Regions from separate parts of the Homo sapiens genome. Here regions 1 and 3 are each linked to region 2. The links come from fine-mapping of genetic effects on gene expression. A gene starts in region 2. Each other region holds a variant in brackets. All regions are shown on one strand. Distances are between the middles of the regions.

Evidence for each region. PIP is the estimated chance that this variant, and not a neighbour inherited with it, causes the effect.
Region 1: its variant is the best candidate, but not a certain one, in a credible set for the expression of FAM30A in whole blood (INTERVAL, PIP 0.62).
Region 3: its variant is the best candidate, but not a certain one, in a credible set for the expression of FAM30A in whole blood (INTERVAL, PIP 0.83).

Annotation. Positions count from the first base shown.
Region 1 is chr14:105,922,627-105,929,755 of GRCh38, forward strand. FAM30A (family with sequence similarity 30 member A) reads left to right here. Exons shown (of 6, transcript NR_026800.2): 4 at 1-17; 5 at 389-496; 6 at 1,710-7,129. It also overlaps IGH. Among named protein-coding and RNA genes, the nearest start is that of FAM30A, 8.2 kb to the left of the region's middle. The variant A/G (reference allele first, on the strand shown) is at 2,853.
Region 2 is chr14:105,914,774-105,921,902 of GRCh38, forward strand. It overlaps FAM30A (family with sequence similarity 30 member A), which reads left to right and starts at 3,206. Exons shown (of 6, transcript NR_026800.2): 1 at 3,206-4,044; 2 at 6,377-6,485. It also overlaps IGH, IGHD2-2 and IGHD1-1.
Region 3 is chr14:106,792,935-106,800,063 of GRCh38, forward strand. It overlaps IGH. Among named protein-coding and RNA genes, the nearest start is that of MIR5195, 54 kb to the right of the region's middle. The variant C/CTT (reference allele first, on the strand shown) is at 3,746.

The DNA.
Region 1 (7,129 bases), 7.9 kb after region 2:
TCACAGCCTCTAGAACTGTGAGAAATAAATTTCCGTTCAGTATAAATTTCCCAGTCTTGGGTATTCTATTCTAACAGCACAAAACAGTCTAAGACAACCCCAAATTCAGACCTAAGGTGAGATAACCCCAACCAATATCTAAGGATCCCCTGCTCCAGACCTTGGTGGTGAGGTCAATACAGGACTCCCTCTGAGGGAAGCCCTGACAGCGATGCCTGGGAAGGCATCTCTAGGGCCCAGTGGGCCAGGGGAGGCCCAGGACACACCTGCATCATCTCTCATAATCCCTCCATTCTGTTATAACAGGAGCATATGCTTATAGCATACTTTAAAAATTAGCCCAAAACTGAAGGTAAGCATCGATTAATTGATGGACTCCTTTTCACAGTTTGGTCTTTGTATTTACACCAGTCATCTCACAATGCGTGTTGAGCTTTGCACCCTTTTACCAAATGAGGTCACCCCATGAATGCTGTCATGTTATCACAGATATGCGGTAAGTATAATTGGGAATGTTTGCGGAATAATCCCACTAATTTTACACCACAGTCATCTCACAATGCGTGTTGAGCTTTGCACCCTTTTACCAAATGAGGTCACCCCATGAATGCTGGCTGTCACGTTATCACAGATATGTGACAAGTATAATTGGGAATGTTTGCAGAATAGTCCCACTAATGTATGCACCATAATTTCTTCAGGCACTATCTTGCTTTCAACTATTTTATAATTATAAATAATGTTCTGAAGAATGTCTGTTCACAAAGTGTTTTCCTTATGTGTGCTAGCCATTTGTTTTCTTTTAGAAATTGTGTTATATCCTTTTTGCCGATTTCTTAAGGGATTTGTTCTTTTTCTTATTAGCTTATGTATGTTGTTTGCATAATAATGGTACAAGACCTTTACATATTAGATTAATATTATTTGAGTTTATTATTTACTCTTGTTTTGATGATTTTTAAATGTAAAGAATCTGTAAAGGTGTTACCTAGCTTCATGATTTGGGTTTGCAGTGAAGCCTGCCCAACTTTAGGCAGCTGTCTGGGCCTGTGTTTCCAGAGCTTGAAGGAGTCTCTGCTTCCCTCTGGAGGGCTGGTGTGATATCAGTGTTCTCTGTCCAGGCCTGGGTGCCCTCCTGGGTCTGGGCTTGGGCTGGGCTCTTAGATGTCTCAGAGAAATTGAGACTCTATTAATCATCTGAGTCTTTCCATTTCTGGTGAGATGATCATGGGTCATCATTGGCCTGAGTGGTGGGATGAGCTATAAATAGTTCTAAATTCCTGGTGTAAGTCCTTGTTCAACGAGATGGACAGAATTTGGCCTTCTAGGATGTCATTTATAACATTTGGCTCTTTGCCAAAATGCAAGTTAGCCCATGTTTTACTCTGGGGACTGTGAATTGTGATCCCTTTAATAGACTTTCCCATGTTCCTCCAAATCCTGGAGCAGTTCTTATGGGAACTGATTAGTTTTGTGAAAGTCTAAACTTCACCCATAAAGCCATCTTGGCCTGAAGTCATCTGTGAGGGCAATTATTTAATAATCTTAATGCTTTCTTGAGGATTACTGTTCCAATTATGATTTCCATTTCTCCTTGAGTCAGCTTTAAGTTTTATTGCTAGAAAAGAAAAATGCCAACTTGCCGTCATCTCTGCTGTCACTATTTTGTGTTCAACAATTGCCTTCTCTATCTGCTGTATCTTTTTCAGCACAGAAGCTGTAATGTTATTAAACAAAGCAATGTATCCAGATCACTCAGAATCTATGCCTGTCACGGGGAGCAGGAGAAGAGGGTGAATGAAGAGCCACAGCATGGCAGGGGAGCCACTGCAAGGATGCTGAAACTCGTGTGAACAGAGTTGCTGTAGGCAGGCTGCTATGGAACCTTTTGGGGAAGCACTGCCTCTTAGGGATGGCAGTGAAAATGGGAGAAGAGGGTGGCATTGCCTCCAGATGGAAGATGTAGTGCTTTGCCTTGCTCCTTGGTGCTTGGAGAGGGAAAGGGATGCTGCTGTAAAGTTCCTGGCTGGACTTTGGCTTGATAAAGCACGGGCACCTTTGGGAGTATGAGGGTGGGTGGGTGTGCACATCTTCCATGAGGAGCTGTTAGTATTGGGGCAGACGTTTCAAGTATGGCAGACAAAGGATGTTCTGCGTGGGGAAATGTGGTGACACCCATTTCACAAGGACAGCTCACATAGATTGAGTGCTCAGGAAGGACCAGCACCATACCCAGTGCCTGATGTGTATCATCTCAATTAGTCCTTGCCTCAGATGCAAAAGGAAACCATCGCCATCATCATCACCACCATCATCATCTTCCTCCTGTGCAGATGGAAAGGCTGAGGCATAGAGAGGTGACGGAGTCTGCCCAGGACTGCAAGCCTGCTGGTGGCAGAGCCAGGTTCCAATGGAATGAAGGCTGTCATCCTCAGATGGCAGGGTAGGCAGGTGGCTAGAGCTCACTTGGGAGAAGGGGAAAGGACACTGACTTTGGCTAGGGATGGAGCAGAGCTTGGGCTGGCTTTCCATGCACGGGCAGGGGGCGTGGCTCATGGCTACGCTCCAGCCCCGGGTGTGGACATTGAATCTTCCAGGTCTACCCTAGGCTATGGGTCTGGACAGCACTGTGATGGAAAGAAGACACTCTATGTCCTGCATTCTGTGACCAATGATGTGACTGTGGGAATGGCGCTGGCATCTGGCTGCCACTCTGGGACGGGTGGCCAGCTGCCATCAGGCCCCACCCAGGATGGGACCACCATGCGACTTCTTCCCTCGCTCCTCCTGGTCATGTCCAGAGCCCCAGGAGGACCAGCAAAGCCTCTCGAGCCGATGGCAGCTCACGTTCT[A/G]CCTTGTCAGCTACTCCTCTCCTGGGCAACATTGGCTGCTTGCTGTGGCTCTCCCCGGGGTATGTGACTGCCTCTGTGCTGGGCACCTGGCCTGGGCTTTCCTTCTGGGCCTGGGCAGCTGGGCTCAGCTTGGACCCAGGCAGCAGCCACAGAGGGGCCCATGGAGGTGACAGAGTTGCTTCTATGATGGTGAACGGGCAGCTGTGACACGGAGGAGGCGACCACTCCTCAGTTTCCAAGTGCTGCGGTCAGGGCCGGGGCCAGCAAAGTCCCTCCCATATTCAAAGAGTGGGTTTGGGTTTGTCCCAGGAGGACATAGTCAGGAGCCCATGCTGGCACATGCCTCCTCCAAAGTTCAGCCTGGATCCCCAGCCTCTGCCAACGGCCCCGCTCCTTAGCTAACCCAGCTTGCTCCTGGGTTCCACGGCGGAGTCAGATGTTTCTGGGCAGTTTCACCTTTGTGCCTTAAATGCATGTTGAGGACTTTAAGGAATTGTGGAGAAATAGGGCTGTGGCAAAGGCAAGTGACAACTGGGAACAATGATCCTGCAGAGGCTGCTGAGGCCTGGGCCCCAGGGGCGTGGGTTCATCCTTCTGCCTGGGCTTTGGTGGGAGGGGCAGACTCTGTGGTCTGAGACACAAAAAAACCCAAAACATACGTGTGTACAGACACACAGCAGAGCCACACACACACTTGTGCCCATGCACACACTCACAGGAGGCCCGTGGACTCCGCACAGGGAAGAAACTCCTCCGGTCGACAGTGGACGGCGCTGCAGCAGGGACTCACCCCCAAGCCCTGCCTGCCTCCCATTGCCCACCTGGCCCTGGCTTGATGGGCTTATCTCATGCTGTGGCCGGGGACCTCTTGCTTCCTGCAACCCCTTGCTGGACTGGGGCCTGGGCCTCTCCTGGGCTGTGCCTAGGGTTTGTAACCCAGGGCCTGTGCCGGCGTGCACAGAGCATCTCTCCCTGGGAGGCTCAGGGCTGCCTCCTCGAGCTCTGTGGGCCTGCACTGGCCGGTGAGCTTGTGGTGTGGGTTTTCAGGCTGTATCCTTCTACCTCCTGAGCCCAGGGGTCCCAGGCGCCCTGCAGCTGTCTCCTCGGCCATCCTGTGGGGCCCCGAGGCCTTGCCCTCACTTCAGTGCCTGGGTGCTCAGGCTTTGCCCAGGTGCCAGGAGAAGGTGTGAGCATGAGCCTATTGGACACACCTGGCGACGTATACCAGGTGTCCCACCCCTGCCACCATGGGGCCTCCCGATACGGCAACCACCACGGACCTGTGGGGACCAATGAGGAAAGAGAGAGGCAGGTCTGGGCCAGGCTCACAGGGACTCCGGCATAGCAGACCCTGCCCCAGCAGGCCCCCTTGTCCTTCCTGGGTCCTGGTCCTTCATGAGGAACTAGCCCATCCCTGGTGGGGCTCCCACCCCGCTTCTCAGTGGGCTCTATGCTTGCCTCGTCGGAGTCACCCCTCAGGCAGTCCTGGGATCCTCTCCTTTAGACCCACTGTGCCTTCCCGGCCTCCCGGGCTTCTGCTGGGGGCAGAAGAAATGCCTCCCCAGGTCTGTCTCTGGAGGCTCTGAGGGAGATGGGCTTGGGGGCTGTAGGAGGAGGCAGGGATTCCAGGGTGTCAGGAAGGCAGGGGTGCCAGGTCCCACCTAGTGAAGTAATAAACCGTGGGTGGTGATAGTGACCCAGTGCCCTCACTGCCCAGCCCCGCCTGTCCTCAGCCAGCACTGCAGGGATCCCAGGCCCAGACTCTGGAGGCCTTCACTGATCCCAGCCACCCCAGAAAAGCTGCAGCCTGCAGGCACCAGCCGGGCCATATGCCCAGTGCCAGCTAGGGCCCACCGCCCATCCTGCACACGGGGCCGCTGGGCAGGTGCCCCTCACACCCCCAGGATGTCAGTGCTCACCTCGAGCAAAGCGCCCCAGCTCGGCCTTGGGAGGTGGTCGTGTCCAGGGGGATGATGGAGAGCTGTCCAACCAAGAGAGCGGGAGGGAGGGAAGGAGGGAGGGAGAGAGATAGAGAGAGAGAGAGAGAGAGAGAGAGAGGAAGTGTGGGCCCTAAGGCTGCCTTAGTGGAGGTGCGCGTGGCCTGCACCTCACCAAGCCTAGCCACTCTCGCGGCTCTGAGTGGCTCACAGGCTTGTGAGGGCCCCGTCGCTGCCTGCTGGGTCCCCACCAGGGCTCCCTCTAGGAATGCGCCATGGCTGCTATGACAATTTGCACAGCCCAGTGGCTTAAACACCATTTATACCACAGGTCCAGATGAATCCTGCAGGGCCAAGGTCTGGGGGTGCTGGAGGCCATGCTCCCTCCAGGCTTGCGGGGAGAACTTCCCTGCCTCCTCCAGTCTCTCCATCCCTGAGCTCTCGGCTCCTCCTCCGTCTTCAGGGCCAGGGCGTAGCGTCTGCTCTCTCGGCCTCTGCCTCCGCTTCCCACCTCACCTGGCTTCTGTCTATGTCAGTCTCCCTCTGCCAACCTCCTAGAAGGACACTTGTGATTACATTAGGGCTCACCCCTTTAATCCAGGGGAGCCTCTCCACTTCATGATTTTCAGCTAACTTGCTTCTGCAAAGACCCCCTTTCCCTATAAGGGCACACATTCACTGGTCCCGGGGCTAAGGACCTTGCTCCAAGTCCCTCCACCCATGATGCTGTGCCTTCCAGAAACCTGTCCTCTGCAGCTCGGTCTTGACCCCAAGCCTGCTGGTGACCTGAACTTCACAGGGTTATCCCCTTGGACTGTGTGCAGCACGATGCAATTTCTGGGCCTGAATGTCATGCTCCCTGGGGCAGGACCTTGAGCCTGCAGCACACACTAGGCCACCTGCAGTCTCACAGGCCATGCCCTGGGTAGACAGGGAGGTGCTCAACCCCAGCTCGGGTCCTCTAGTCTGCCTGGCTACCATGCTTCTCACTCTCCTGCATCTGCAGACCCTGCGTTGCCATGTGAGGCAGGGGTGGGGTGGGGCTGAGGGCGTGGCTTTGGTCCCTGGCTGTCCGGATGAAGTACCAGAGTGACGCCACAGCCCATCCCGGTGACATGCTCACCCCCAACCCCCGTGTCCGGGACCCCGGTCTTGTGTGGTCCCTGATGTGGAGTCCTCAGTCCTTAAGATACATCCAGAAAGTCCTGGCCATGAATTGGAGGTGCAGAGTCCTGCAGAGCCTCTGGGCTGGGCTGGTGCCCCCAGGAGATGGAGGGCCTGGTGGATGCCCTCCTCCCTCAGAGCTGGGGCAGCTGCCTCCCAGGGGTGGGACTCTGGGCTCAGAGAGAGGCCCTTGAGCTGCAGCTCAGGGGGATGCGAGGCTTCGTGGACTGTGTCCTGGTCCATGTGGTGCACGTGTCTCCACCTCCAAGGAGAGGCTCCTCAGTGTGCACCTCCCCCACATCCGTCCTCTCTGCCGGCCCCGGGCGTCTGAGCAGTCATTCCATGCCAGCACCTCTGCAGCCTGCTGGGCCTCAGGTTCTCTGTGAGGGACCTCCCCGGCCTTCGGCGGAGGTGGAGTAAGCTCCGTCAAGGCAGGTGGCTTCGTCCCTTCCTGTGAGTGACACCAGTGATGAAATGGACCCCTCCACACAGGCATCCTCAGGGCACAGGGCCCTGGGGGCACCTTCCTCCTTTCGTATTTGTTGAGAAAAAAAGTGGCATTGCGCTCACACCAGGATGCTGGAGCAGAGCTGACATGCTCGGGAAAGGGCAGAGGTCACTGGGGGTGGGAAGGTCATCCAGTCCAGACTCAGCACCTCGTGGGCTGGTAAACTGAGGCTCAAAGTGCTGGTGCCAGGCCTGAGGCCTCGCGGTGACCCCTCTCTCTGGTTCCCAGCACCTGCCTGAGACCTGCCCCAGGCACCCATAACCTGGAATTCCCTGTTTCCTTGTCCAGGGCCTGAGGAAATGGCTCCCCAGGTCTGTCTCTGGATGCTCTGAGGCAGATGGGCTTGGGGGCTCTAGGAAGAGGCAGGGACTCCAGGGTGTCAGGAAGGCAGGGGTGCCGGGTCCCACCCAGTGGAGTAACAAACTGTGGGTGGCGTTTGGGCCTCCCCGCCTTCCCCACTGGGTGTGCTGGTGCTGGCGCTGCTGGGTCAGGGCTGCCCGTGACCCCAGACACCACTGTCCATCCTGTGAGGCTCCCGTCTGGGCATGTCCTGGGTGGATTCCTCCTTTCTGTTAAGTAGCTACATGAGGCAGGGGCTCCTGGATCCAAAGCAAATGACAGGAATTCCAGAGCCAGGTGCATCCACTCAGGGCAGCCAGTGTTGGTGG
Region 2 (7,129 bases):
CCCTGCAGCCTCAGTGCTACTGAGGTTCCAGCAAGACCTGGAGCAGGTGCAGATGAGGCCTGAGGCCAGGTGAAGCCCAGGCCAGGTGAGGTCCAGGCCAGTGAGGCCCAGGTCAGATGAGGCCCAGGTCAGGTGAAGCCCAGGTCAGGTGAAACCCAGGTCAGGTGAGGCCCAGATCATGTGAGCTCAGGACAGGCAAGGTCCAAGTCAGGTGAGGCCGAGCTCAGGTGAAGCCCAGAGGTGAGGTCTAGGCCAGGTGAGGTCCAGGCCAGGTGAGGTCCAGGTCAGGTGAGGCCCAGGTCAGGCAAGGCTGAGGTAGATGTATGAGACTTCTGTAATTTTCAGTTGGTGCCAACCCTGCCTGGTGTCCCTGCCCCTCCTCCCAGCCCATGCTCTGTGCCTGCCAGATGGCGGCCCCTGCACAGGTGCTGCTGGCTGTGGAGGAGCTGGGCTCTGCCTCCCTGTGCATGGGCGTCCCTCTCGGGCTCTGGCCTGGGAGTGTGGCTGAGTTGCTTGTCTCCGGAATGTACCAACTGTGCCGTCCTTGGGGGTATATGTCCTCGGGGGGATACGGCTCTGTGCCTGCTCCACATCAGGCCCCAGGAGCTGCCAGCAGGTACCAGCCTGCCCTGCCACACAGTGTGCCTGCAGCCTGTCCGGGGATGCCCAGGGAGGTGAGTGCCACCACATATCAGGCCTTTTCTCTTTAAAGTCATTTCTTTGGGGATACATCATCAATGTCTCATATACTGAATGTATGTCTGTATCATTGTGCAATTGCCTGTGTCATCGTTTATTTATCCAACCTGGGTTAATGTCTTTGCTATTATGAACAGTGCTGGACTGAGAATTTTCTAAACACAGCTGTGTGCATTTTCCTCTTCTTGCAATTTAGAATTTTAACTGCTGTTTTCAAGGTACTGTAATGTATTTGTTCTCTTCTTGTTAGGAGACTTGCCAACCCTGTGTGTCTCAGTTCATACCCTCTTCCTTCCCCAGTAGAAGTAACGACCACTGTGTTTATGTGATCATCCTTTTCTTGATTTTCCTTATAGTTTTCCTAGTGGAAAGTTTATCCCTTAAGAAGATAGTTCATTTTGCCGGCTGTAAATTTTATTTAGAAGAAATCACATTGAAAGTATTTTTTGGACTTTCCTTTGTTACTCCAATTACTCAGCATTGTCATGAACTCAACCACAGAGTCACCTGTAACCCTCACTGTTGTCCTTCTGGCTGTCTGGGTTTGCATTTCATGAACCTGCCATCGTTTATTTGCCTGTTTTCCTTCAGATGGCTGTTTGCTTCATTCTCAGTTTGGGGCTATGACAAACATATGTTCTGCACATCTTTGCCCATGAGGCTCTCAGGGAGGGCTCTGGAGCTGGCATTGCCTGCAGGGCTCTGCTTTGTTGCAGGGAGTTCCTGCCAAGGCTTTTCAGAGTGTCTGTGCCCAGCCTGAAGGTACACACTGTACTTTGCCCTTGCATCAGGCACTTTCCTTGTGCTTGCTTCTGTGTGGCTCCACATTCTGGAGAATTTATTCAGATCTGTGCTGCAAATCCATTTCACTGATTCTCTCTTTAGCTGTGTCTACATCAGCTGTTAAGCATCCCATGATGCAGCATTGTGGGCACAGGGCAAACTCTTGAAAGATGACAGTGTAGGATAGCGGCTGCTTCTCCTTCCCTGTGCCCTTCCCACACTGTCCTCCTGGGCTCACTCCCAGCCATCGATCTTGAACACCAGTTTATGGAACTATCTGCACAGGAAAGCAGAAACAGCAAAAGGCCCTGCTCAGGCTCTGCCCGCATCCCCTCTTGCACACCCGCCAAAGCTCTTTCCTTGGGGCCTGTGCAAGCTTCCCAGCTGCTTCTCATTTTCTGTTTACTCTGCTCACTGGCCAGTGGGGTGATGTCTGGGGGGGAGTCTGGTGCGTTTTGGGCATTGATGGCCACCCCTAGGCCCTACTTCCCAGACGCTCCCCCCAGCCCCTCAGCTCCAGAAGTGGAAGCGTTTACAGCAGGGCTTTGGGAATGGGGCTGTGTCACTGTGGGCATAGCAGCTGGTACTACTACAATATCCTCACAGTGACACGAGCCCCCACAAAATCCTCCTGTCCCCGCGGGAGTCACTGAGTCCCCTCTTGCTGTCTCTGGCTAGTTCTCCTGCTGATACTATGATTTCCAGGGGGTTTTTGTCTGAAACTCAGGGTGTGTTGGAGAGGACTCTGAGCCCAGTGCTGTACAGGGGGCTCCTCCTTTGTCCTGGGGGAGTTGCGTGGACCCTGTTTTTGGTCAAGGGAAGTACTTGCTGGTGAAGGAGACCTCCCCTCCTTTCTTTCTCAGGAGCCCCCTCTGATGCCGTTGCCTGGTGTTTCTCAGGGCTGGTGCTGGGGGCTCAGCAGTGTCTGCCCTGTTCCAGGTGGGAATGTGGGTCTGTTCTGTTTCCACGCGGTGTTCTGGGGCCGCCAGTGAGGGGCTCGGGATGTCAGCGGCTGGTCTCTGTCCCTATGGTCTGGGCTCCGGTTCACTGCTCCCCTGCCCTCCAGGTCGGTCACTGACTCAGTTACTATCCAGCGGGCTCCGTGGCTGTTCAGTGGTGGCTGCAGGTCTCTTCCCAGGAGAGGCCTGCGAGAGGGCTGGGCTGTCTGGGAGCCCTGCATTCTCCCATGATGTTGCTGCCTGGATCCCTCGTCTTTACAGGGAGTGCCGAGCCTCCCTGCAGGTGCGGGCAGTGAGAGACACAGGCGGACGTGCATCAGGGTGCTGGAGGCCGATTTCTTTCAGTGCCTTCTGCCTGTGGAAGGGCTGAGCTCCCTGCTTCTGTGCACAGGAGGCTGCCGTGTAACCGGGCAGTGAGGGCAAGGGCCTGCATGGGGAAGACTTGGGTGAGCCTTTGTCCTGGAAATACCAGGGCTGGGTCCAAGAGGGGAGCAGGGTCAGAGTGTCCAGGAGGAAGGTGAGGGCATGGGCAGTGTGGGGGTGGGAGTGCACGGTCAGTGCCATGGCTCAGGGGCCCCAGGAGAGGAAGAGCTCGAGTTGTGGGCAGGAGGAGGCAGGGGGTAGGCACAGAGGGTAGAAACTGAGGCTCTGGCAGCAGAAAAGGGGAGGGCCTGCATGTGCAGGGTTGGCCTGGGAGGGGTGTCTGGAGGGAGAGACAGGGGTCTGGGTGGAGACCAGGGTGTAGGCTGCAGGGATGGGACCCCAGGGTTGTCTGGATGGGCAGGAAGAGCAGCGGGGGAGAAAGGGCTGGAGGCAGGGTTGGGCCTCCCCAGGGTGTGGGGTGCAGGGAGGGGCTGCACAGGCTGTTCCCCTGAAGGAGGGAGGAGGGAGGGAGCACAGAGGTGCTGGGAGCAAATGGAGAGGGAAGTGGCAGCGGCCCGAGTGCCAGGCGGTCCCGGTTTGGGGTTGATCTTTGTGGAACAGCTCCCTGGCCCGTGTGTAAGTGGTCGGGGGAGGCACGGAGGTCTGGAGCTACAAGCGGTGGCAGGAAGGCAGGTCCCAGTCTTGGGGGTCTGGAGCTTATCTTCTTCCTGTGAACTGAGTGTGGGCAGCACCTATGGGCGGTGCCCTGGACCTGTGGTCTGGTGGAGTCCAGGCCTCCCAGGGACAGCAGGGCAGCCAGGGCTAGAGGAGCCTGAGGGTCCAGGTCAGGGTGGCCCTGGGGCCACTGCCTCCACCTTTGACCAGCTCTGCTGTGGGGATCTGGGCATGAGACCCCTTCACCCAGGAGGGGAGCCGCGTGAGTGAGACCCTAAGTCCATACCCCATGGGGGGCTCTGACCCTCCTGCATAGGGCCTGGACAGGGGTGGGTGGGGTGTGCGGGGGGCGGTGGGGAGCCCAGACTCTCCCAGACACAGCCTGCTCTGCTCCAGAATGTGGGCTTGGGCACTGCAGGCTGGCTGGGTCTGGGCTGCCTGGTGTGCCTGTGGTGGCTGCATTCCCACAGCCGGGACTGAGGCCTAGTGAGGACCAGGGAGGAGCCTGAAGGGAGCTCCATGGAGGACCTGCCTCGGATGACACCCCTATCTTAAGAAGGTCATGGTGGGTTCCAGCTGGGAGGAAGGGAAGTGGGCCACCTCCTGGGGGTCTTCCACCCCCACCACCTCAGCCTGGGGCCTCTGTGATTCCTCTCTGCACAGACCCCAAAGTCTGTGCTGCCGCAGGGCAGGAAGGAAGGGCCTGTGGCCTGGTCGAGGTTGGGGCCACAGTGGTGTTCCCTAAGCCCGAGTCTGGTCTCATGGCCCGCCCCGCAGCAGGTCCTGAGTGAGGGACAGAGACCGGGGCGGGGTCTTTGGTCCTGGTGGACTCTGGGGTGGATTCCAGTGGGGAGTCATCAGGGTCGGTGTCCCCCAGGGTACTGGGGTGTCTCTGCTCCTGGAGTCGGCTCTGGATGTGGGGTTTATGCCTGTGCTGCCTGGGGTTGATGCTGGGAGGTGCCAGTGACCCCCGTTTCCCTGAGGGACTCTTGTCGGTGGTAGGGTCAGTTCTGGCCAGGAGCACTGGGACCATAGCAGTAGGATGGGGTCCAGCCCCTTCCATGACCCCCTGGAGCCCTGGTCCCCGTCCTCACCATTCAGTGGGGTTCAGTGGGGACTCCACTGTGCTCTGGCTGCTGGGGGTCGTGTGAGCTGAGCAGGACCTAGGTTCGGGGCGGCTGCTCCCCTCTCTGGCGCGGCCTCCAGCAGGGGCCAGGAGAGAGTTTTGGACACAGTTTTTCTCACGGTGGTCGTTCCAGTTGTACCCACCGTGACTCGGGGCTGTTCAGAATCTGCCCCGGCGCCCTGAGCTCTGGGGCCTCCTGGATGGGGGCTGGGCTTGTGGGCGGCATCTCCTTCGGGGGCTCTGGAGGCTGGGGCTCGCTTTAGTTGTGGGGTGAGCACTGGGAGCCCCAGTTAGCGGAACACCCACAGAGACCGGGGCCTGTACACATTCCGCCCCGGTGTGTGGGGTGGGCCCAGGCCCCTCTGGGCAGGTCAGCTTCAACGGGGAGGGTGCTTGGGTCCTGTTAGTTTTCCTCTGGGTTAATAGGATTCATCTCCTGGCCCCAGATCCTCATAGGCTGCCCCTGTCCCTCCAGCAATGCAGGACATGGCAGGTCACCCTGGAGGGAGGCATGTTCTGGCCTGGGCGTCAGGTGTGGCACCTCAGATCCTCCATGCGTGCTGTGGGCTGAGCAGGACAGCAGACGACCCCGGGCCCCCACCCTGTCTATGGACATTTTTTGCTGCAGCAGCTGTGGGAGCTGACAGTGTTCACAGCCACACCAAGGTCATCATTGTAGTCAAGGCTTTCTAAAAGTTTCATTGTGAGGAAGCCTCCTATTAAACGGCGCCTGGGCCCTGCTTCCTGAGGGTTACTGCTGAGTCCCGGATTTCCCGTAGAGGCGACGAGAGGAGAGCAGAGGGAGGAGGAGGGGGATGAGCTGGGCCCTGCAGAAGGGGGTGCTTGGGTTGGGGTCTGTGGAGTGAAGATCTGGGCTCCTAGGGGCCACCCAGACAACCATCCTCCCTGTTCACACCTTGAGGGTCCCAGCAGGAGCCAGGTGGGGAGACTGTGAGGAGAGGGCCTGTGTCTTGTCTTCCTTGGGCCGTGGGACAGGGTGGAGGTTGAGGGCGTCTTTCCCAGGGGATCACAGAACAGCACCTCTGCTGTGGGGGGGCATCCAGCACGGGGGGCTGGGCTGTGGGGTGCAGGGCAGGAGGGGGCGTGCACGGGAGGGGTGTGGCCCAGTCATTCCTGCATTCACAATCTTTCTTGTCCTGGGCACCTGCACTAGACCCTCGCCTGGAGGGGGCGGCTTCCTAGCCTGCAGCGTCCCTGGAGTCTGCTCTGACTCTGGACCTGGGGACAGGAGCCAGGCAGGAGGTCAGCAGCCTCCTAGGACAGCAGGAGGGCCCAGGCCAGTGCCTAGCAGACTTCTGCTGGAGTGGGGTCCCCGGGGCAGGGAGATAATGATTTCTAGAAGTGTCTGTGTCTCTGAGTGTGCAAGTTTGTCCAAACTGTCCACCAGGTGTGATTAGGTAAACATAGGCAGACTTGAGTTCAGGTGGAGGAAACTGAGTTTTGTCCTTAACTCCCTACCGACTCTAGGGGAATGAGCCAAGCTCCATTATCATCTGTGCAGAGGCCACAGCCTTGTAAAGGGAGGTGGTAGGGGAGCAGGGAGGGTGCTCGGGGCTCAGTCGTCGGGGAAGGGAAAAGTTGCCCAGCGCTGGTCAGCGTCCCCGGGATGGGGCCAGTTGTGTCCGTGCCGGCCACTGTTGAGGTCAGGATTCTGTCCTCCCAGAGCCTGGAGACACAGGCCCCATCCTTCCCAATGGGGACACTTCAGGGAGCGGCTCTCAGGTCCCGAGAAAGACCTTCCTGGCCACAGGAGACACACGGACATCGGGAACGGACGGAGGAAGGATGTGCAGTTGCAGCCTTTTCAGCAGACGCCCTGAGAACGGGAGGTCAAGAGTTGGAGCAGACGGTCAGTTCTGGTGCGTGGAGCTTTCTCAGGCAGGTGTTAATGGGGCTGGGGTCAGCCTAGGGGTGTGACCTGAAGCCACTGGAAGCCTTGCTGGGGTCTGGCTCTCTCTTGGTGCGGGGGGTGGAGGGAGCCCTGACAATAGAGCACTGGGGGGCCTCCAGGAGACCATCCCTGCAGCAGCTGGGCCATGCTCTGAGGACCAGGAGACCATCCCTGCAGCAGCCGGGCCATGCTCTGAGGACCAGGAGACCATCCCTGCAGCAGCCGGGCCATGCTCTGAGGATGTGGGACGAGGACCCCCACTGTCTCTGAGTGTAGGGTGGTGACTTCTTTGCACAGACTGGCCAGGGGTCCCCCAGGGGCACAGTACAGGTATCCCTGGGCTGCAGGGCTGGGGGACATCAGAGCGGCTCTCTGGGCTTGGCAGCCACCTCAGGTGGGATCAGAAGGGGAGGCAGTGCCTGGTGCTTCCCCTCCAGGCCTCTCTCCATGGTGTCCAGGGTAGTTTCTGGGGCTTTGGTGCCAATTCCTCAGGCCAGGGTCCTACCCTTCTTGGTGCCGTGATGCTTGGGGGCTCTGGAGGAAGCCCCAGCTTTGGCCACTCCTGCACTGCCTGGGGCTCCAGTCCTGCTGCGCCTTGAGGGGAACCCAGGG
Region 3 (7,129 bases), 880 kb after region 2:
GGCTGTTGGGCCCCACGTAGAAATTAACAGCCTGCCCAAGGTTTCTGCAGGGGTCTCCTCTTTTTAGATTCCATTGTCTGGGTGCTCATGAGATTTTTTTTGGACCTTTTACCAGGTTGACTGGATGTCACGCCAGACCAATATGGACTCCAATAGGACTGGCATCGTGTACAACAGGCCAAACCAGTGAACAAGACATATAGTTTATTGAGGGCTTTCATATAGGGTGGTTCAGGAACAGCAGGCTGGACAAGAAAACTACAACCATTTGACAAAACTATGCAGCTTATGTAGTAATTTTTACTTAACACCCTCCACCTAGCAACTTTCATTTAACCCAAAAGAAAGAGCCTCAATCACCCCTAAATCCTGTGTTCCAAGGGATCGGTCAGGGGTTTGGATGTTATTCATAGATTAAAAAACAAGTCTCTGGGTCTGCCACTCCTGGATTCCTTAGCTTGGAACTTGAAACATACATTTCTTTTTTCCTTTCTGATTATTCTGGCTAGGACTTTCAGTAATACGTCCAGTAGGAGTGGTGAAAGTGTGCATTCTTGCTCACGTTCTTCAGGAATATTTTTGCAACTTTTTCTCATTCCATATAATGTTGTTTTGTTATATGTGGCTTTTTTTTTTAGTTAAAGTCATTCATTTCTTCACTACCAAGTCCAGCATATTGAATAAATCAGTTGCATAGGTTTTTACTAAATTTAAGAAGATCCCTGTTCTATTGATTTATTTAAGAGTTTTTTGTTGGTTGTTGTATGTGGCTTTTATAGTTTTGAGGTAGGTTTCTTTGATGCTAAGCTTGTTGAGGAATTTTTCATGAAGGGATATTGAATTTTATTGAATGACTTTTTTGCATTCATTGAGATGGTCTTATGTTTTCTGTTTTTAATTATGTTATATGTTGAATCATATTTATTGATGTGTTTATTTTAGACAAGCTTTGCATCCCTGGAATAAAACCCAATTGGTCATGATGTATTATCTTTTATTGTGCTGTTGGTTTCAGCTAGCTAGTATTCTGTTTACTATTTTGTATCTATGTTCATTAGGGATATTTCCCTGTAGCTTTTTGTTGTTGTAGTTGTATCCTTGCCTGATTTTGGTATTAGGTGATACGAGTATTTTAGACAAAGGTGGGAAAGAATCTCTTCTCTTTAATCCTTTGGAATAGTTCCAGTAAGAATGGTACATCTGGTAAAATTAGACCTTGAATTTATCTGGTTCTGGGCTTTTGGGGTTGGGAGATTTTCAGTTTCTGATTCAGTCTTATTACTCGCATTGGTCTATTTAGGATTTCTTTTCCTTCCTGGTTCAATTTTGGGGGGTAGTTGAATATTTCCAGAAATTTATTGATTTCCTCTAGATTTTCTAGTTTGTGAGCATAGACATATTCAGTATGTCTTGATAATCTTTTGTATTTCCATTGGGTCAGTTATAATACCACCTTTATCATTTCTGCTTGTGCTAACTTGAATCTTCTGTCTTTTTTTTTTTGTTGACCTAGTTAGTGCTCTATCAATTGTGTTCATGTTTTAAAATAACCACATTTTGTTTTGTTGATTCCTTATATTTTGCTTTTTTGTTTCAATATTTTTGAAATCTGCCATGATCTTTATTTATTTTCTTCTTCTAGCTCTGGGGTTGGTTTGTTCTAAAATATCTAGTTCCTTGAAGTAAATCAATAGATTGCTAGTTTATAATCTTTCTATTTTTTCATAGACATTTAGAACTATAAGCTCTTAGTACTGCTCTTCCTGTATCTCAGAGGGTTTGGTATGTTGTGGCTTCATTTTTCTTTGTATTTTTAAAAATTAATATCTTAATTTTATTGGTGAGCCAATGATTGGTCAAAATTGTGTTGTTTAATTACCTCATATTTTCATAGTTTCAACAGTTTTTTTGCAATTGATTTTTTTAATTTTATTTTTTTTATTACACTTTAAGTTTTAGGGTATGTGTGCACAATGTGCAGGTTTGTTGCATATGTATATGTGTGCCATGTTGGTGTGCTGCACCCATTAACTCATCATTTAACATTAGGTATTTCTCCTAATGCTATCCCTCCCCACCGCCCCTCCAACCCCACAACAGGCCCCAGTGTGTGATGTTCCCCTTCCTGTGTCCATGTGCTCTCATTGTTCAATTCCCACCTATGAGTGAGAACATGTGGTGTTTGGTTTTTTGTCCTTGCGATAGTTTGCTGAGAGTGATGGTTTCCAGCTTCATCCATGTCCCTACAAAGGACGTGAACTCATCATCTTTTATGGCTGCATAGTATTCCATGGTGTATATGTGCCACATTTTCTTAATCCAGTCTATCATTGTTGGACACTTGGGTTGGTTCCAAGTCTTTGCTATTGTGAATAGTGCTACAATAAACATACGTGTGCATGTGTCTTTATAGCAGCATGATTTATAATCCTTTGGGTATATACCCAGTCATGGGATGGTATATACTCAGTAATGGGATTGCTGGGTCAAATGATATTTCTAGTTCTAGATCCCTGAGGAATCGCCACACTGACTTCCACAATGGTTGAACTAGTTTACAGTCCCACCAACAGTGTAAAAGTGTTCCTATTTCTCCACATCCTCTCCAGCACCTGTTGTTTCCTGACTTTTAGATTTATTACATTACTGTGCAATAAATAACTAACATCTAGAATCTAACAAGAACACAGACAACTCAGCAACAACAACAAATAAATAAATTACACCATTAAAATGTGGGCAAAAGACATCAACAGACATTTTGTGAAGAAGATATTCAAATGGCCAAAAAGCATATGGAAATAAAAAGCTGAACAACATTAATCATTAGATAAATTAATATTAAAACAACAGTGAGACACAACTTTACATCAGTCAAAGTGCCTATTATTATGAAGTCAAAAAATTATAGATATGGATGAGAATTCAGAGAAAATGCATTTATACACTGTTGTTGGTAATGTAAATTAGTGCAACCTATGTGAAAAAAATTGTAAAGGCTTATCAAGCAACTAAAATAGATCTATCGTTCAATCAGCAATCCCACTCCATGATATGTACCCCAGAAAATAAATCACTGTTACAAAAAATGCCTGGTCTCAGAGCCAGTAATTCTTTGCCAAGGCCAATGCAGAGAAGAGTATTCCTAGGTTGTCTTCCTAGCTTTTTGTAGTTTGAAGTCTTAGTTAAAGCTATAATCCATTTTGAGTTAATTTTCTTTTTCATATGGTGATAGTCACGAGTCAAGTTCCCATCTTCTGCATATGGCTAGCAAGTTATCCCAGCACCATTTATTGACTAGGTTGTCTTTTCCCCATTGCTTGTTTATTTTTTTCAGGGTTGTCAAAAAACAGATGGTTGTGGGTGTGCAGCTTTATTTCTGAGTTTTCTATTCTATTTCATTTGTCTATGTGTTTATTCTTGTACAAGTACCAAACAGTTTTTGTTACTGTGGCTTTATAGTAGAGTTTGAAGTCAAATAGTGTGATGTCCCTGGCATTGTTCTTTTGGCTGAGGATTACTTTGGCTGTTTTTGTTCTTTTTTGGTTACATACAAATTTTAGAATACTTTTCTTATATTTCTAGAAGAATAAAACTGGTATTTTGATAATAACATTGAATCGATAAATATTGAAGGATAATATTGCCATTTTTGCAATATTATTTCTCCCATTCCATGAGCATGGAATTTTTTTTTCAATTTATTTGTTTACTTTCTGATTTCTTTCTGCAGTGTTTTGTAGTT[C/CTT]TTTTTTTTTTTTTGCTAAAGACTAGTTTACAAAATACTTTATTGAATCATCTTATTTTGGTTTGCAGTTTAGAGCAAGTTACTTAGATAAAATATATGTTCTCTACCTACTCAAGAGACATTAAGGATTTTCGTTGTAATTGTTTTTTTTAATTATACTTTAAGTTTTAGGGTACATGTGCACAATGTGCAGGTTTGTTACATATGTATACATGTGCCATGTTGGTCTGCTGCACCCATTAACTCATCATTTAGCATTACGTGTATCTCCTAATGCTATCCCTCCCTCCTCCCCCCACCCCACAACAGGCCCCGGTGTGTGATGTTCCCCTTCCTGTGTCCATGTGTTCTCATTGTTCAATTCTCACCTATGAGTGAGAATATGCGGTGTTTGGTTTTTTGTCCTTGCGATAGTTTGCTGAGAATGATGGTTTCCAGCTTCATCCATGTCCCTACAAAGGACATGAACTCATCATTTTTTATGGCTGCATAGTATTCCATGGTGTATATGTGCCACATTTTCTTAATCCAGTCTATCATTGTTGGACATCTGAGTTGGTTCCAAGTCTTTGCTATTGTGAATAGTGCCACAATAAACATACGTGTGCATGTGTTTTTATAGCAGCATGGTTTATAATCCTTTTGGTATATACCCAGTAATGGAATGGCTGGGTCAAATGGTATTTCTAGTTCTAGATCCCTGAGAAATTGCCATACTGACTTCCACAATGTTTGAACTAGTTTACAGTCCCACCAACAGTGTAAAAGTGTTCCTATTTCTCCACATCCTCTCCAGCACCTGTTGTTACCTGTTGTTTCCAAGGCTACAGTAACCAAAACAGCATGGTACTGGTACCAAACCAGAGATATAGACCAATGGAACAGAACAGAGCCCTCAGAAATAATGCCACATATCTACAACTATCTGATCTTTGACAAACCTGACAAAAACAAGAAATGGGGAAAGGATTCCCTATTTAATAAATGGTGCTGGGAAAACTGGCTAGCCATATGTAGAAAGCTGAAACTGGATCTCTTCCTTACACCTTATAGAAAAATTAATTCAAGATGGATTAAAAACTTAAATGTTAGACCTAAAACCATAGAAACCCTAGAAGAAAATCTAGGCAATACCATTCAGGACATAAGCATGGGCAAGGACTTCATGTCTAAAACACCAAAAGCAATGGCAACACAAGCCAAAATTGACAAATGGGATCTAATTAAACTAAAGAGCTTCTGCACAGCAAAAGAAACTACCAACAGAGTGAACAAGCAACCTAACGAATGGGAGAAAATGTTTGCAATCTACTCATCTGACAAAGGGCTAATGTCCAGAATCTACAATGAACTCAAACAAATTTACAAGAAAAAAACAAACAACCCCATCAAAAAGTGGGTGAAGGATATGAACAGACACTTCTCGAAAGAAGACATTTATGCAGTCAACAGACACATGAAAAACTGCTCATCATCACTCGCCATCAGAGAAATGCAAATCAAAACCACAATGAGATACCATCTCACACCAGCTAGAATGGCGATCATTAAAAAGTCAGGAAACAACATGTGCTGGAGAGGTTGTAGTTCTTCTTGTAGAGATCTTTCACCTCCTTGGTTAGCTGTATTCCTAGGTATTTCTTTTTTTGTAGATGTTGTAAGTGGGATCGTGTCATTTATTTTTCTCTATGCCTGGATGTCGTTGGTGTATAAAAAAGCTACTGATTTTCGTATATTTATTCTGTATCCTGAAACATTACTAAAGTTGTTTATCAATTCTAGGATTCTTTTGGCAGAGTCTATAGAATTTTCTATGCATAGGATCCTATCAACAGCAAAAATAGATAGTTTGAATTCTTATTTACTTGTGGGGATGCCTTTTATTTCTTTCTCTTGTTTGATTTCTCTGGCTAGAACATCCACTACTATGTTGAATAGGAGTGGTGAGAGTGGGTATTCTTGTTTTGTTCCAGTTATGAAGGGGAATGATTTGAGCTTTTGTTGATTCAGTATGGTGTCAGTTGTGGGTTTGTCATACATGGCTCTTATCATTTTAAGCTAAGTTTCTTTGATGTCTAGTCTGTTGAAGGTTTTTATCATGAAGAATGTTGAATCTTATTGAAAGTTTCTCTGGATCTATTGAGATAATTATATAGTTTTTGCTTTTGATTCTGCTTATGTGGTGGAGCACCTTTATTGATTTGTGTATGTTGAACTAGCCTTGCATGAAAGGAGTAAAATCTACTGGATCATAATGTAATAACTTTTTAATGTGCTGCTATATTCAATTTCCTAGTATTTTCTTGAAGATTTTTAGGTCTATCATCAGGAATATTGGTCTAAGATTTTCCTCTTTTGTGTATCTCCCAGATTTTTTGTTCCAAGGACACACAATAAGGAAAAGATTGCCTTTTTAACAAATGGTGTAAAAACTGAGCATCCATATGCAGAAAAAAATGAGACCTCATCTCATCTCATATACAAAAATCACCTAAAAATGTACTCAAGGCTTGGATATAATATGATATCTAAAATTGTAAACTCATAGAAGAAAACAGGGAAAAAAGAAGCTTTCCAGAGTTGATCTGGAAAATGATTTATTTGGATTCGACACCAAAATCATAGACAAATAAATTACTTGAAGCTATATATCTGACAAAGGGATCTATCTAAATGTGTAAAGAACCCATACAATAGCAAAAAAAACCCCTGATTTTTAAGAGGGCAAAACTGTACATAGACATTGTATTCAAGGGAAGACATATGCATGGCCAGCAGGACATGGAAAGGTGTTCCACATTGCTAATCATCAGGGGAATCCAAATCAAAACCACAATGAGATATCACCTCACGTTCATTACCATGACTATTATCACAGACACAAAAGATAACAAAATGCTGACAGTTAGCTGGTGAAAAGAGAATTATTCAGTGGAGTGGTAGTAAAAGTTATTTTATAAATTGAAAGTAAAACTATTACGTGATCTGGTGATCCCACTTCTGGCTGCGTATTCAAAGGAAATAAAATCAGTAAGTAAAAAATATGTTTATTACAAGATTATTCATAATGGCCTAGAATTTTTTTAAAGTTAGTGACCGTAGGTAAATGGGTGTATAAAGCAAATGTATACACATACAATGGAATATTATGTGACCTCTAAAAATAAGGAAATTATAACATTTCCAACAACATGGATGGGCCTGGAGAACATTATGCTAAGTGGAATAAGCCAGACACAGAAAGACAAATGCTGCATTATCTCATTTATATGGGGAATCTAAAATATTCAAATTCTTAGAAGCAGAGAGTAGAAAAGTGGTTCCCAGGGCTGGGAGGAGTGGAAATAGAATGATTCTTGTCAAGGGCATAAAGTTTCAGTTGTG